Linked DNA regions of Homo sapiens. The protein of the gene in region 2 purifies or fractionates together with the protein of the main gene of each other region. This does not show direct contact. Each region holds a gene or a part of one and is shown on either strand. Other genes may lie near its edges. The genes, in order: LAMA4, MCAM and CNTN1.

Region 1 (3,752 bases), on a different chromosome or scaffold from region 2:
GCTGGCACTTAGTAAGTCCTCTATGAACAGACATTAGCTATGTTTATCGATATCTTCAACATTATCATTATTTGTATATTTCAGACAGAAGGGTAGCAGGGGATATAGGTAGGTATGGACATATATACCAATATGTAATATATATATAATCATTTCAAGGTAACATTGTTTTATTCCCCTTGGTAATTCCTCAAAATATTTTATATCCTCTCCCCTCAAAAGTTACTCCTTTTATGTATTGTTAATTCTGTTGATATCAGGGCCTATTTTCTCTTTTTCTGTCTTCTGAGTTGAGGTTTTTAGATATAATTCTTTTATTTCATTTCTATATTTTAATATTCTACCAGCTATTCAAGTCCATTTTTTTCTAGACTATATTAATGTAGCTACTTGGAAAAAAGATTATAACATTTTAGAAATAAGACTAGTTGTGTTGCAGGTATGTGGAGAGCACACTTTGTTTTTGAGACAGGATCTCACTCTGTTGCCCAGGCTGGAGTGCAGGTACAGTCAGCAGTCATAGCTCACTGCAGCCTTGAACTCCTGAGCTTAAGCGATCCTCCCGTCTCAGCCTCCCAAGTAGCTGGGACTACAGGTGTATGCCCATGTACAAATTTTTTTGCAGAGATGGGATCTCATTATGTTGCCCAGGCTAGGAGCAAACTTTTAATAAAAGGACTTGTGTACTCTTAAATTGAATTTTATGATTTTGTCCTACTGTTTTTGCTGTGATATCCTCAATGATTCCCATAGAACACACAATAATGGTAATAATAACCTACAGAAGCCTCCTCTCATGTACAATTTTATTTTTCTTTTAAGGAGATAAGGAAGGGGAAAAAGTAGTTGATTTCCTGTGTTTCTTATTTAGAAAAAATTAAATTATACTGCATTTTTCTAGTATTCTGTTAGAAATTTACTTTATTAAACCTTGATAACTTCAGCTATAAACCTAAAATATTCTTCTTATACTGATAGACCAAACAAAAGGGCTAAAAACAAATCTATCATCTAATTTAGATTATATGTAAGTTAGTAAGTCTCTTCAAAATAAAGAAAGGTAGTTTTAGGACAGAGATTTTTATATAGATTGAAAGTTATCTTCCCTGGAAGAAAGGTGAATCTGAGAATCTAGCCGCACTTCAAAAATGTGTGCAAGTGTTTATTTGGAATCCCTTCTATTTTATTAGAAACAGAAACAGTAATTTCACCAGTAGGAATTGCGTGTGCTCTCAATACAAGTAAGTTTGCCACTCCTTCAATTGTTGTCCATTGCAGACACTTTGGATTCAAGGTTAAGAATCCAAATGAGAAATAAGAAATATCCGGTCCCTGATGATTCGTTTAAGTCCTGTTCAACTCGATGAAAGCTTCCACCCGAAGGAAGAGTTACTGTTCCTCCTGGCTGGCTTTGTGTTTCTTTCAGTGCTCTAAAGAACTTTGTATTTGGGCAGCTGTGCTCTGTCATGTCAGGCTGCTGGACAGGAGTTGATGCTTACGGCGCCGCTGACCAGGGCTGCTTTACTGAAGCTCACTGGGTGTCCATCAATCACAAAGTGGCGTATGCAGCCTGTGAAGGGTTTGCTGGGGGCCAAGCGTGGTGTCAGTAGAGATTCTGAAAAGAGCAAGAAATAAAAACAAAGATTGCAATTGAGGTATTCCAAGCCCAAATATTACTTCCTGGTAAAAGTATACATATTTGCTCATATCATCAATATGATTTACATTTCAAAAATAGAACATAGTTATAATTGACTCATTTCTCAGTAACATTATTTGCTTGTGAAGTCCTATGGACATGTGGTAATTTTAACGTTTTGCCATGTTTTCCATGATCACATTTCTGTGTATTGTAGCTGTCTTTCAAGGCTGAAATTTACCACTTACATGTAAAGCCTCAGCAGTGAATTTTCATGATCTACCTATGTTTTTTAAAGTTAATTTCACCTGGGCCTCACTTATAATGTGTACTTTGCTAAGAAGGAGGAAAGAAATTTTAGCTTCCACACTATTTTTGGACTTGGTTAATATTTCTGTTTAATTCATTACCCTTCACCCTTAAGCCTCTACATTTTTGCCTGTTCATAAAATATAATGAGAAAGTAATGAATTCGAATAAACTAAGATTCAATTTTTCTGAGCTCAGGGTTTAAGAACTATAAATAGGGTAATGATAACTCGCTTAGTCTTTGTGTGGGCACAAGTGCCCTGTGGTATGCCAAGGGAACTTTCTCCTCTTAATTAGAAATCTAGAAGAAGCCTTATGCTTATTAATTGTACAGACACAATTAAATGTGTTAGGATGATAGAAGCAATATAATTTAAAGCGATTTAGAGAGCTTAGAAATATAAAATTAAAATCCATTTAGCCAAAGCTTATTATTATTTACAAACAGCTATGTGAGCAGTAGCAGATAAAGGATGGAAAACACTTAGAAATCAGTAATTCAGGAAAGAACATAGAACAGCAAATGAAACATCAGCAAGCAGCTGTAATAAGTTTTCTAAGCAATGTAGGGTAAGAATATGCAGAAGCTGTGTACTGAAAATAAATCATGGAAATAGCATTTTATATTTAGAATGATAATCATAAAAGTTTTAGATTTGGAAGGGGCCTGAGAGATCAATTCCCTTTATTGTCTCTAGATTAGTGTGACTATTCTTCAAGCCTGCTCAGTGTACTTCATCATTTGGGTAAGAAATGAGTGAACAGGAATGCTTATAAGAGGTAGAAACATCTAATACTTCTGCTTACTTTGGAGACCTGACTTAGAACTTAGGTTTTGATTCTGCCCAAGCTTACCATCCTTTGGCTTATGAGGGAAATCATCTGGAGGTAATAATTCATGTAGCAGTTAGTGGTCTGAATAATTCACCATACAATTAATTGTAGGTAGTGACAGTACAGTGCCCTAGGATCCTAAGTAATTGATTAATGAAATTAATGCATAATTTTTAGAGAGAATGTTTCCCAGGTTGAATGCTTGACTATATACAAATAATGCAGGATTTTCAGTAGAGGAATGAATGGTTAGACCCATGGGTGGGCTACATTAACAAAACCTTTTTATTTTATTATTATTATTATTTTGAGACAGAGTCTCACTTTGTGGCCCAGGCTAGAGTGCAGCGGTGTGATCTGTGCTCACTATAGTCTCCAGTTCCTGGGTTCAAGCGATTCCGCTGCCTCAGCCTCCTGAGTAGCTGGAGGGATTACAGGCACTCACCACCACACTCAGCTATTTTTTGTATCTTTAATAGAGATGGGGTTTTGCCATGTTGGCCAGGCTGGTTTCCACCTCCTGAGCTCAAGTGATCCACCCACCTTGGCCTCCCAAAGTGCTAGGATTACAGGCGCGAGCCACCATGTCCGGCAGAAAAAAAATTCTTTGATTTTTAATTTTGATTTTAAAACTATCACACACTAAAGTTGACTTTTTTGGTGTGTAGTTCTAGGAATTTTATGCGTTAGCTTTTTATGGATAGAAATAATGAGTCACCAGAGTTCTGAGTGGTATTCTTGGAGAATTCAGTGCATTTAGGGGTTTTATTTAGCCTAATTTCTTTAGCTATCCTCTTAATGCCTGGTTTCTGATGTGATTTTAGTGGAATTAATCTTGAACAGCTCAAAATGATATAATTAATTACATTTCATCTTAAAGTATAGTTGCTTTTATTCTAGGCTTGCTGGCATAATTCTTAGATGGACTTAAAAGCTGCAGTGGTGCAGTGGGCTGGTGGTTACGCCCTTC
Region 2 (3,752 bases):
GCTTCCTTAAAGGACAGTCTTCTGTGCTTGTTTGGTGGGGCAATGCGAAGGGACGTCACCCTGGGCTCTAGGCTCTGACCTCATTTCCCTTTCACCGCAGAGACAAATCCTCCACCCCCACCTGGCTTCACTCTCCTCCAGCGGAAGAAGAATTCAGAACTGACTGTCCTTGGTGGTTAGCTGGCTTTGTTTTCAGGCCAGAGAGGCGAATGATTAGTTAATGGTGTTAAGTGAAGGAAGGGGGTTGGGCAGGGAAGCCAGCTCCATGCCCAGCCGGGCCTGCCAGGGCAAACGGCATCCTTCAGCCATTCCCACTCCAGCCCAGCAGACAAAACATTCTCATCTAGTCAGCTCTGGGCCTGGGGCCAGTCCATACATTCACTCTGGAGGGCGAGCCAGCGTCCTCCTCTTGTTCTCCCTGCAGGCTCCAGGCTCCAGGCCCCTGGCCCGGTGGGCCTGGGCTCTGCACAGCCTCTGGCTGGAGACTAATGGCATTGGAGGAGGGGTCGAGAAGGCTCTGAAAGACAAGCCTGGTGTGGTTTTCCAGTCATCTCTGCGTCATCAAAACGCCACCCCGGAGCATGCTCTCAAGTCACCTGGCCATCTCCAGGGTTTGCTGGCTCACCCTCCACCTCCCCCAGCGAGCAAAGGGGTGGCCCCGCTGGGCAACAGACCTCTACCCAAATCCAGGCCCCTATTTGGCACTCCCTGGTGGAGGCGCGCCAGCAGATGTGGACCCCTTTTCTGAGGCCAGGCTGCTGGGGTCAGAGTGAGGCAAGAGCACCTCCCCCTCCCTAGAGCCTTAGTTCAAGAGGCCAGAAGACCCAGGGAGAAGCCGGCGTTTTGGGAGAAGGGGAGCTGCAGAGCTCCCCACCCAAGCAGGTCTGATTTGATTCTTCCCTCAGCTATGGACCCACAATCAATAGGGCTGGGGAAGACATGGGGTGGGGGAAGATCAGCGCTGCCGGGATCCTTTCAATCATCAGGAACAGCAACAGGTTTGCAGGGTCAGGCTGGGGACCCTCGCCCATTAACTCTTTCTTCTCCCTGTTTCTTTCTCTTAGGTGAGGGGAAACTGAGTTCCAGGGTAGGCTCCAGAGTGAAGAGGGAAGAAACATGATTCTCAAGGCCCAGGTCTGGACAAGTGTGAACACCTTGGGCCTGCGAATTCAGCCCCCTCCTTCCTTTCTCTGGTCAAAGGCTAGACTTGCAGGAGCTTGCGTTTGAAGGGACAGCCCAGAAGGCATCGTCTGCACTCCCCATACAGGTACTTCTGGGTCTGTGGGACTGGCGCAGGGTTCTTCTCCCAAAGCTGCCAGCACTGAGGCTGAGGCAGTGTCAGGCCGGCGGCAGCGGCAGTGGTGCAATCGTTCTGGGAAGCGATAGAGGCCGGCCTGAATTCTCTGTGGCAAGGGAGGGGAGCCCAAGTGGGAGGCCCCTTGGGGACACCGAGGACCAGGTCCGCTACTGCTCCTCCCCCAGGAGGTCCCCTAGGGGCTACATTGGCTGGCAGGGGCTGAGCAGCGGTGAGCCTGGCTGGCTTCGACCCGGGGCGACTCCGGGCATCCGGGACAGCTTCTCCTCGCTGCCACCTCGGCCAGTCAGACCCCGAGACACCTGTCACTACCCCCTCAGCCTTCCCAAGCCAGGAGCCTGGGAGTCCGGCTCTGGCCTACCTCCGGCAGCGCTCCTAGGCGCAGCTCCCGGGCTGGCGGCGCCGGGGCCCGCCCCCTAGGGCTGCGGCGCGCGGGGCGGGGGCTGGGGGCTGCGCGGGGCGGGGCGGGCCCGGGCGCTCCGGGCCCCCTCCCCCGCCCCCCTGACGTCAGCCCCCGGCAGCCTCGAGCTGCTCACTTGGCTCTCGCCCTCCGGCCGGGAAGCATGGGGCTTCCCAGGCTGGTCTGCGCCTTCTTGCTCGCCGCCTGCTGCTGCTGTCCTCGCGTCGCGGGTGAGTTCGCTCGCAGGGGGGCCGCGCCCCGGCTAGGGGTCTGCGGTGGAGCGTGCCAGGGAGCAGAGCCAGCGGCGCGGCGGGGTCGGGGCGTTGCGTCTGGGAGGACGAGCCTCCTCCCTGGGTCCCCGATCCCCGGGCGCCTTGCGCGCGAGCAACTCTTCTTTGCAGCCAGTTTGCAGCCGGGATTCTAGAGTATCCCGGGAGCAGCACTCGGAAGGCGGGGAGGAGGCTGCTTCTGGGAACGAGAAGGGGTGGAGCTCAGCCTTTCGGGGTGCTGGGGGGTGGGTGGTCCCTGAGGTGCTCACTCTGGGGGCCCGCAATTGAAGCCGGGCAGGAGGCGCAGCTGGGGCGCATCCTCAAAGCCTGAATTCCGCGCCCGCCTGTTGCTGGAAAAGGCAGCTTCCTTCGCTGGAGGGGGTGCGCCGACCCACCCCTTCCCCCTTCTGCCTGGGCATCACGCCAGGCTGGAGGTGAGCGAGAGCGGGAGGTTCGGCGGCTCCCGCCCGAGCTGGGCGTTGGCAGGGGTTGCGGGGCGGTGTGGGTCGCCTCGCGCCTCCCCGAGTGATGGGATCATAGGGGACAGAGATGAGGGATGGAGGATTCCCATACTGGAAGCGCCCGCTGGCTTATTTTGGGGACCACATTCAGGTGGGAAGTGCGCCCGGGCACCTCGGAGCGTTTCTCCGGATCCGCCTGGTAGCAGGGCGCTCTCGGGTCCACGCTGCCCTTGTATGGCCCGCAGCGGTGTCGCGTGTTTCTCTTGGCTCCCATTCCGCCGTCCCAGCCGCTGTCCGGCTGGGGAAGGGGAGGGCTAGGCAATACCCAGCTCGCTGGCCTCATGCCCAGTGCCAACCATGTCCCTGGGGTATTCCAGGCTACTGCCTCCCAGGCTGACTTTATTTCTGGGGAAAGGGCTAAATCGGGCTCCACAGTTGCAGCCGGTCCAGCTCCACCCTGCCCTGCTCTTCTAGCTCTGGGAGGAGTCAGGGGTCTGAGGCTCTGGGTTGGAGACCCCACCTTCCACCTGCCCTCCTTGTCCGAGAGCCAAGGTAACAACCCAGGCATCCCAGAGCCCAGGCAGATGGTGTCGAGTGACATCACCTCCTCACAGGGCTGGCAGCACGCTGGCACCACTGACGTCACTCCTGCCCACTGCCTGGCCCTTGCCCTGACCCCTGGGGGAGACTCTGACCTCTCCATCCTTACCAGCTACCTAGGGTGGGGTCCGCGGGTGTGTGCGGAGTGTTCATGGAGGTGCTGCTGAGGGAGCATGAGACCGGAACTTCCGCCAGAGTTAGCCCGCTGGGGAGTGAGGGCAGGGATTTTGGAGGGCAGAGGATAGAGCAGTGGTGTCTTCCCCTGGCGGTGGTGACACAAAAGGGCCTGTGTGCCCCAGCCTGGCACATGCTTTGCATTCCCACACTCTGAGCTCACCCGGAGAGGAGGGGGCCTGGAAGGAAAGGGGCCTTCCTCTTGGCCCCGAGCCTAGGTTGCCCCTTTCTGCCCCTCTACCAGCCTCAGCTGGAGCTGTTCGGTGCTCAGTCTCTGCTCAATCTCTGCTTGGCTCCAAGGACCTGGGATCTCCTGGACGGGGAGAGGGCTGGCCCAGGTGGGGCGCGGGTCGGGGTGGGGGTAGAGCGTTCAGAGGACAGGGCCCTCTGCAGACCCTCTGAGTGGCAGGAAAAACAGCTGCAGCAGCGCTGCGAGGGGAGGGGCGGACAGCAGCCGGAGCTGACACAGCTGCGGGGGCCCCGCCTCCCTCCCCCAGGTGTGCCCGGAGAGGCTGAGCAGCCTGCGCCTGAGC
Region 3 (3,752 bases), on a different chromosome or scaffold from region 2:
AGGAAAAAAATAAGGAGAGAGAGAGAGAGAAGGTAGAGTAAGATTACAGAAAGTTGTTTAAACTGAAAGAAGATACTTTATGTTCAGTTTTTGTCTTTTTTAGGAAGCTTTTATATTTCAGGGCCCAAGTGCCCTTTCTGTATTGTCTCTCCTGCTAAATTTATCCCAGGACTACCCTGAAACACTGCTTGAACAGGGACTCAGGAACAGCAAAGCACTTGAACATACATACCGCATATCCATTTTTCAACCATCGGATTGTAGGGATGGGCTTTCCTGTGGCCACACAAGGCCAGTAGAGATCACTGCCTATGTCCACCTCTGTGTCATTGATGTGTTCTACCCACTCAGGGAATGCTAAAAAGTAAGGAACATTGTAAATGTTAAATGAAGGGCTCAAGATCCATCATAATCTCCAGAGTATAAATATTACATTTAGTTAACCTAATTCTGCAGAATACATCAGATAGTGTATGCATCCTGAACTCAGTAATAGGCCTTGTCTTTGCATAGGCTTAACCTACGCAAATCCTGTATTATTACAGCAGGAGGTAACTATAACTCAGCCATTATTTTTCCATTTGTAAATCATGTTTTGTTGAAAAGCTGAGTTATAATTATTACTAAAATAACTGATTTTTTTCTGCTCATAACATAAACCTTTCAAGTCTGTCAAAATGATAATTGAGGTTTTAAAGAATTACATCTCAATTCAATATGATACCATCTCTTAACATTTTGGATAAAGACTCAGATATTTTTCCCACTCCCTCAGGTATACATTATCTTCATTTTGATGGAACTTTCAGCTAGTGGCCACGGTAACATCTCACTTTGGCGCTAGAAAAATGACTTGGACACCTAAATATACTCTTTCCATATTAGAAACTATATACAGTAGCCATGATTGGTGAAATCCATGCATTGGTAAAATTGATCTCAGTCTCATTCTTTAGTCTGATCTACTTGATAGCTAAAGAGACATCCATAAAAATGAGAAAATGCTAAAAATTTTCCAAAGAAAAAATATTTTTAGAGAACAAGCAAATAAACAATTTGACAGTCTTTTTGATTATTTCAGTTATCTAGTCCAAATAAATGCAGATAAATAAATTAATACAAAAAGGAAGTAGGAAGAAAGAATCCTGAGTGGAGAATAATATTTAATTTTCTTTGAAACTGGGAACTTGTGTTAATTTTATGGCAAAAGCAATATATGCATCTTATAAAAAACATTTAACAAGTAATAAAATACTAGAAATTTAAAAACTAGAAAACATTTTTATCTCACCAAATACCATCAACATTATACATTATAATGTATACATTATACATGTAGACATATGTACACCTATATATCTTAAAGCATATATAATCTTATTTAGTACATGTTTTCACTCATCATTATATTTGTAACATAGGGAGATATTTTTTAAACTATTGGTGGATATGTTCATTGTAAGGGAGAAAGGTTTTATTTTGTATACAATCTTAGCAATACATAATACAGGAATATCAGCACCCTTCCTGTCTTGGCCTCACAAAGACAACACAGACATTTTCTATTACATCATGTAATGAATAATTGAATTGGCTTGACACAGTCTATATATGGCTTAATTATGTAACCTTCTAGTGATGTGATCAGACCTAAAGATAATACTTAGTATGCTGCATTAGTAAAGAATAAATAATATTTCTCTTAAATTACCTTCTGTAAATATGTGCTCTGTCACCTTGGTTCTTCTAAGGCTTTAGATATTAGACAGTTCAAAATTTTACTCTGTTGAGAACCTGGAGTGTAGTTTTCTTAATATGTTGAATAAAAACAGGTCTATAAGCTTTAGAAACCTAGTAGAAAGTGGTGGATTTATTTCAAAAGTTTAAAGGACCTTACCTAGTATTTTCTTCCTTTTAGGAGGCCATTTCATGCAGACTTGATATGTATTGCATTAATGTTACTGTGGCATTGGACATACGAGTCTGAAGTTCAGAGTAAATGTTTGGGTTAGAGCATTCAGGGTACAGAGTGTGTCTAAAGCCATGATCACGAGTGGGATCATAAATGGAGTGACTGAAATGGAGATGGGGTTCACAGATGGAACCCTGATCACACCAATGTTAGAAAAGTATGGAGTTGAAAGGCAATGGAGAATGAAAGATTATACAAGGAAATTAATAACAAAGTAGGTTGCAGACATGAAGTGCAGAAAGTGAATCATGAAGAAGGGAGGGACCAACTGTGGCAACCACTGCTGTTAGATCAAAAAAAAGTACAACTGAGAATTGATCATTAGCTTTAGCAATATGGAAGTCTGTGGTCATGAAAAGAAAGGTTTCTGTGGAGAGGCAGAGATGCAAATCATGTTGGAGTGCAATTAAGAGAGAAGAAAAACTGGAGATGGAGACAACACTTTTAGAGAGAATGCGTGAATCTGTCAAATTTTTTATTCCTTTTTGGGAGAGACGGGAGAAAGTGAAATGGGACAGTAGCCAGAGTTAAAAACGAATAATATTGTGGAAGCCCTCGATGTTTATTCACTTGTGACCTGCAAAGTTCATGTTGTGGAACATTATAGAAATTATTTCAGTCTGGAAAGTTTCCAGTGTGGCCTGAAAAAAAATCTGTCTTCCCAAATGTAAGTTTATTTTAATGTGTGAAAATCAAAGGTTTGTGCCATGATAATTTTGTCAAAAAAAAAAAAAAAGATTTCTTAAACCAGTGGTTCTCAAAGTGTGACTCCAGGACCAATATTATCAGCATCCTTTGGGAATTTGTTAAAAATACAAATTCATGAGCCCCTAACAGACCTCTGAATGAAAAATTCTGAGAGTTTGGCCCAGCAATCTGTTTTAACAAGCCCTCCATGTGATTTTGATGCATGCTTAAGTTTGCAAACCACTGACTTAAACTAAGTCATAACACATAGCTTCTTCTATAAATAAAAAGATACTGAAAAAAGACAGTGATAAAATGAGTAAACAAACTACATTAAGTGTATATTCTGAAAATTACCAATAACACTTCTATCAATCTATTGCTATTACCTATGGTTCAACTGGTAATAAGTTCGTAACTTCTATAACTCATAGTTGTGACTTCATTAGACATATGAGAAATATTTTATCTTTCTCCATGATGTAACATGCATCACTGTTTTTAAAACCATTAATCATTATATAGTAGTTTTTCATGTATGGAAATGGCTCTAAATAAGATACTGATGAAATTTATACAAAATTAAAATAATGTATCTACCTTGAACATAAATTCTTGCTTGATGTTTATCCTTTCCTCTAATGTTCTCAGCCTCACATTCATAGATGCCTTCATCTTCTAGCTGAATATTGAAGATCTTAAGAACAGCCCCAGAGGTGCTAATCTCAGCAGTGCTTGGCATTGGTTCTAGAACCTTCCGCCATCGGATATCCGGAACAGGACTTTAAATAGAAGATACAAGGGTTAAAGTTTCACACACTTAAAAGACAATTACTTTATGTTTATAGCTAAACAATTATTTATTTCCTAAAATGGTACTATTTCTATATATATTAATAAAAGTGTCAGTATACTTACTTTCCAAGTGCAAAACATTCTAAGGTCACATTTTGGCCCATCAATGCATATACATCCTTGAACTGAACTACAATATCAGCAGGATATGGTTTTGTTGTTCCTAATATTAAGAGAAACACAAATATCCACTAATTATTAGGCACAATATTAGTTATTCTTAAACATGGTAATTCTA

Evidence for each region.
Region 1: the proteins of MCAM (region 2) and LAMA4 purify together in Homo sapiens (affinity purification with mass spectrometry; 3 studies listed by BioGRID and IntAct, with this or other methods). This does not show direct contact.
Region 3: the proteins of MCAM (region 2) and CNTN1 purify together in Homo sapiens (affinity purification with mass spectrometry; 3 studies listed by BioGRID and IntAct, with this or other methods). This does not show direct contact.

What each region holds. Positions count from the first base shown.
Region 1 is NC_000006.12:112,107,968-112,111,719, forward strand, and holds part of LAMA4 (laminin subunit alpha-4 isoform 1 precursor), read right to left. Parts: intron 1,616-3,752; coding exon 1,470-1,615; 3' UTR 1-1,469. UniProt on the Homo sapiens protein: Binding to cells via a high affinity receptor, laminin is thought to mediate the attachment, migration and organization of cells into tissues during embryonic development by interacting with other extracellular matrix components.
Region 2 is NC_000011.10:119,315,228-119,318,979, reverse strand, and holds the start of MCAM (cell surface glycoprotein MUC18 precursor), read left to right. Parts: upstream 1-1,849; 5' UTR 1,850-1,878; coding exon 1,879-1,945; intron 1,946-3,716; coding exon 3,717-3,752. UniProt on the Homo sapiens protein: Plays a role in cell adhesion, and in cohesion of the endothelial monolayer at intercellular junctions in vascular tissue.
Region 3 is NC_000012.12:40,933,386-40,937,137, reverse strand, and holds part of CNTN1 (contactin-1 isoform 1 precursor), read right to left. Parts: intron 3,678-3,752; coding exon 3,578-3,677; intron 3,442-3,577; coding exon 3,260-3,441; intron 358-3,259; coding exon 233-357; intron 1-232. UniProt on the Homo sapiens protein: Contactins mediate cell surface interactions during nervous system development.